Linked DNA regions of Homo sapiens: region 2 is linked to region 1. A link means that fine-mapping ties the variant in region 1 to the expression of a gene that starts in the linked region. Tissue or cell type: whole blood. Region 1 holds a variant in brackets; the other region holds the start of a gene. All regions are shown on one strand. Distances are from middle to middle.

Region 1 (2,599 bases):
TTTGAGCAAGGTATTTAACCTCTTAGATGCAGTTTCCCTATCTGTCAAATGGGGTTACTAATAGCACCTACTCTGTGGAGATCTGACAATTAAATGGGATCTGGTATAAAGCCCTAAGAATGGGTTCCTGGCCACATGGTGTGTATGGGAGGGTTTGCTCCAACTACCACCAATTCCTGTTTGCGTCCTTTCCCCAACCCCAGCAAAGTACTGGGCAACATGGTGCCAAAGGAAGATCACCAATGTCCAAGGACCTGAAATTAAGGTTCGACTCTCCAGACACACTAGGGGCAGGTTGCCCTCTTGGTAACAAGGATCTTACCCACCTCACAGGGTTGTTATAGTGGTCAAGAAAGATGGCCCATGCTATTTCCGGAGACTGCCAGCCAGCCTGGCTGCAGCAGTGGCCTGAGTGAAGCAGGCGGAGACAGTGGTGCGGAGAGCCCACATCTAGATGGGTGCCTGCCGCTCAGCAGCTCTCTTGTTGCCATGCAGGCTGACAGTTGCCAATTTTTTTTATTTCTTTTTCCCAAGAAAAGTGAGAAATCTGGATTTTTATGAGAAACCTCCTGATTTCTATGGATGGCAACTGACGCAAAGATTTTTGTGTTTGCTATTTAAACACAGTGCCACCTAAACAAAACCTTGAAGTAGGGGTGATATGCTGCATAGGCCATCAGGGTGCATGTTCTGAAGTCTTCCCTCTTCTCTAGGCCCCTTCCTGCCTTCTTACCTCTCTGCCCCCACCCTCTGCCCACCCCCGGCATGTCTGGCACCCCGTAGGGGATTTGGTCCGGGGAGTTTCTTCATGCTCCACTGAGATCAAGGGGATACAGAGCCCAAAAAGGATGACTTGTTATGAACGAAAATGACAGAGGCAAGCAGTTTAGAAAGTACCAGGTTTTATTATCTTTTTATCAAAAAAAATCAGTAACAGACAACAGTGTGAGAGGTGCCTACAGAGGAGGTGCTCACTCCAACACAGCCCAAGGGGAAGGGCACTGGGGGCAGAAGA[G/C]GACCCAGCCAGCTGGGACCCTGGGTTGCAGTGGTGACGGGAGCTAATGGCCACTGGTGCAGCAAGGGAGGGTGGTTCCCCTCACCGCAGCCACTGGGGTCAGGAGGAGACACGACCTGCCCAGGCTAAGCCACCAGGCCTCCCCTCTCAGGAGAGGGAGGGTCCCAGACAACAGGCCCCAGCTGGGGCCTCATCAGCCCTCCCCCATTCCCCCCCCCCTACCCAGGGAGACAAGGGTCGTCCCAGCACAGCTGAGGCTGTGACTCGTTAAGCCAGTTTAGTTCTCTAGAATAGTGCTGTCCAACAGATGGACATGCTCTCGCTGTCAGTACAGTAGCCATGAACTACATACAGTGACGCCTCTAGAAACGTGGTTAGTGCAACTGAGGAAGGAATTTTTAATCTTATGTGATTTTAATTGGCTTAACTTTAAACAGCCGCATGTGGTTACTGTATTGGATAGCACAGCCCTAGAGCCTGAAGAAAGCAAACCAAAGAACACCAGCTGGGTCCCAAACAGAAGGCAGAAAGGGTAGAACCATCCACCTCAACTATTCCAGCCCCATCAGAAGGCACCAGGAACAGGGCAAGAGAAAAAGGCAAAAACCCACCCAGCCACATGAAAATTCACTCACTCAACCACCCAGCAACATCAAACTGGAAACACCACACTATTTCCTGAAAAAAATATATTTATCTATTTTTCTAGAACCAAGGAAGAATAATAATATATTATAAGAACACAGACACAAATATCCCACCATCCCCTTCATTATATTTTGGGATCTGCTAAAAAAAAACTATGTTTCGGCAAAAGCTATTTTATAAGAGGAAGCAGCTTCAGAAAGGGCCAAGGCCATGAGGAGCGGGGTTTAAAGTATAAAAAAAAAACTGGGGAAGGGGTTTAATGAAAGAGAACAAAGAAAGAAGAGGGGAAGGGAGGCCCTATCTAAAGCTATAAATAGTAAAAAAAAAAAAAAAAAAAAAAAATTAATAAAAATCATCTCTCCGGCTCTTCTCTCATTTTCAAGAAACAAACAAAAACAAAAACAAAAACCATTAAATACAAACTTAGCAGGTGCTGTGGAAATGTGCGAGAGAATGAAGACACCTCGGCACCTCCACACTCTTGCCCAGGCAGAGATATACACTCTGCACAAAGGAATGAACAGTTAAAAAAACGAACAAACACTAAAAATAGATTTACAAATATTCTATAAATCCATTTCAGCATAAACTCTCAGCTCTTTTCCCCATCCTCCCCCCCAAATAAAAAAGGTTGATTTCCAAAAGTCACTTGAAAGAGCCTAGAATGGCCCCAGGTATATACCACAGAGATTCCCGTAGTGTGATCACAAGTACCCATTTACAGAAACATCTCAAGGTGCAGGTGGTTCTAGTTCCTTCCCCCATTTCCTGGCAGAGAGACCGGCTGTGAAAGGAAGGGAGGAAGGCCACTGGGGGAGGACCTCCAGCCAGGACTCCACACAACATCCGTTAGCCCCCTGGCTTCAGAGGAGCTCTGGATGAGGCATGGTCAGTATGGGCTTGAGGGCGGACCTAGATTCTTAACTGGAAGTTTAA
Region 2 (2,599 bases), 23 kb after region 1:
TTGCCCCCCTCCTCCTAAGCCGGCTGCGGGCATGGATAGAGCTTCTGCTGGCCCAGGGACAGCTATGACGGAGGCCAGTGGACAGTGAGAAGGAAAGGTTTCCCTGGGCTGATTGAGGCCTTCTCTCCCCCCTACCCCCTTCACCTCACTCAAGGTGGATGCTTCAATTTTCTTATCTGCAATTGAGAAAAAATGAACACACTTCTTGCAGAAAGCAGAGGCTCAGCTCCTGGCTAAGTGTTGAGTCTAAACCATTCCTCTCCTCTGTCCTCGAAAAGAGCAGAGTCCCCAACTTTCTAGAAACCCTAACGCAGTGTCCCCTCTTGCCCCATTCCCTCAGACCCTTGGTGCAGTATTGGGAAGAGATTCAGAAGGGCAGGACTTTGCCCTAAGTCACAAGTCAATGACAGAGCTGGGGCCAGAACTGAGGTTAGGGCTCAGTTCTCCTTGGTGTGTGAAAGAGGGCCTCGCACAACCCTAAAACCCTCCCCCTTCCGAGTACACGCAGCCCCCCGACCCCCAGGGCCATCTCGGATCCTAAAGCTGTCTGCTCTGGGCGCCCCGAGAGCGAGGAGGGGATTCAGCGCTCCAAGCCTGCCCCAGGGTCACCAGGGAAGGGACGAGGGTGTGGGAGTTGAAGAGTTGACACCGGCTTAGTCACTAACGAGCCCGTAGCCCGCGGCGGGGCTGAGGCCCGGGGAGGCGGGAAGAGCAACAGGCGAGGGGCGCACGGCGCGTGAAGCCATCCCGGAGGCTGGCCCGTGACCCCGGAGCAAAGTTTCCAACAAAGTTTCCCGGGCCTCGGTGTCCGGTTGGGGGTAGCGTACCCCCGATCTGCCCCCCCCCATCCCACGCTCCGACGAACAAAGGAGGCACCGGCCTGCGCCCCCGCTTCGCCCCCAGCCCGGGAACCTCCAAGCACCCACCGACTCGGCGACTCCGCCTACGAAGAACAGCAGCAGCGCGAACAGACGGGCGGGGGCCATGGCACCGCGGACTGGAGAAGGCGCGCAGGCTGCGGCGAGTGGCCCCGGGCGGGCGCGCCACCCATCTTATAGGCGGCCTACCGGCCCCGCCCCGGCCCGCCCCCGCCCCGCCGCCCGCACCCCGCCCGGAATTCCCCAGTGGAAGCGAGGCCTGCGGGGCACTGCGCCCGCCCGCGGAGTTGGAAACCCCAAGGGACCCGCCCTGCCCGAGCCCGCCGGCTCCTACTCAACCCCTAGTCCTACCCTCCGGGAGCTCCAACTCCCTTTATTTATTTGACCCACTGCCAGGCAGGTCCCCAGAGATCACTGCGGCTAACCCCATTTTATAGTTGGGGAAACTAAGGCCCAGGGACGGGAAGGACTTCCCTAGGGTGTTGAGTTTAGACCAGCCTTCATACCGGGTGTGCTCCCCTCTGAAGACACAGAACTTCCCAAATGGGATGTGAACCGTGTTAAGACAGGGGACAGCAAACTATTCTGTAAAGGGCTAAATATTTTAGGTTTTGCGGGCCATACGATCCCTGTGGCAACTATTCAAACTCGAGCGTCGTAGCTCAAAAGCAGCCATAAATACTAAAGGAATGAGGGCAGCTAGGTCCTAATAAAACATTATTTATAGACACCGACATTTGAATTTAATATAATTTTCATGTGTCACGAAATATTATTATTCTTTTGACTTTATTCCCAACCATTTAAACATGCAAAAATCGGCTGGGCTCTATGGCTCACGCCTGTAATCCCAGCACTTTGGGAGGCCGAGGAATAGGAGGATCCCTTGAGCCCAGGAATTGGAGACCAGCCTGGGCAACCATAATGAGACCCCCATCTCTACAAAAAGTTTTTAAAGAAATTAACCAGGCATTGTGGTGCACCCCTGTGGCCCAGCTACTCTGGAGGCTGAGGTGGGAGGACTGCTTGAGCCAGAGAGGTGAAAGTTGCAGTGAGCCATGATCGCTCACTGCACTCCAGCCTGGGTGACCGAGTGAGACCCTGTCTCAAAAATAAATAAATAAATAAATAAATAAATAAATAAATAAATAAATGACATTTTATAATAAAAATGCAGGCCGGATGCAGTGAGTCATGCCTGTAATCCCAGCACTTTGGGAGGCTGAGGCGGCGGATCACTTGAGCTCAGGAGTTTGAGACCAGCCTGGCCAACATGCTGAAACCCCGTCTCTACAAAATACAAAAATTATCCAGGCATGGTTGCCTGCGCCTGTAATCCCAACTGCTCTGGAGGCTGAGGCAGGAGAATCGTTTGAACCCGAGGGGCGGAGGTTGCAGTGAACTGAGATCTCCCCACTGCACTCCAGCCTGGGCAACAGAGCAAAACTCCGTCTCAAAAAAATAAAAAATAAAAATGCAAAAACCATTCTTAGCAGTGGGCTGAACAAAAATAGGCGGTGGGCCTCAGCCACTCTGAGACCACTCTGACGCTGGTCTCAGAGTGGCTGACGTCTGTTCTAAGGGCTTCATCTACCAGATTTTGAACTTTTTCAAAAGTTTGATCTCTCTGAGAACTGGTCTGCAAGTTTATTTCCATTCTTAGGGTAAGCTTCCACCCTTTATAAGAGAAAGTTGTGTGTCCTCCTTACCCTTCATCCTCC

What was found. PIP is the estimated chance that this variant, and not a neighbour inherited with it, causes the effect.
Region 2: SDC4 starts here. The variant in region 1 is fine-mapped to the expression of SDC4 in whole blood (INTERVAL, PIP above 0.99). The same link has a PIP of 0.9 or more in testis.

What each region holds. Positions count from the first base shown.
Region 1 is chr20:45,324,403-45,327,001 of GRCh38, forward strand. It overlaps SDC4 (syndecan 4), which reads right to left. Exons shown (of 5, transcript NM_002999.4): 5 at 886-2,599. Among named protein-coding and RNA genes, the nearest start is that of MATN4, 17 kb to the left of the region's middle. The variant G/C (reference allele first, on the strand shown) is at 1,016.
Region 2 is chr20:45,347,399-45,349,997 of GRCh38, forward strand. It overlaps SDC4 (syndecan 4), which reads right to left and starts at 1,026. Exons shown (of 5, transcript NM_002999.4): 1 at 927-1,026. The coding sequence starts at 986.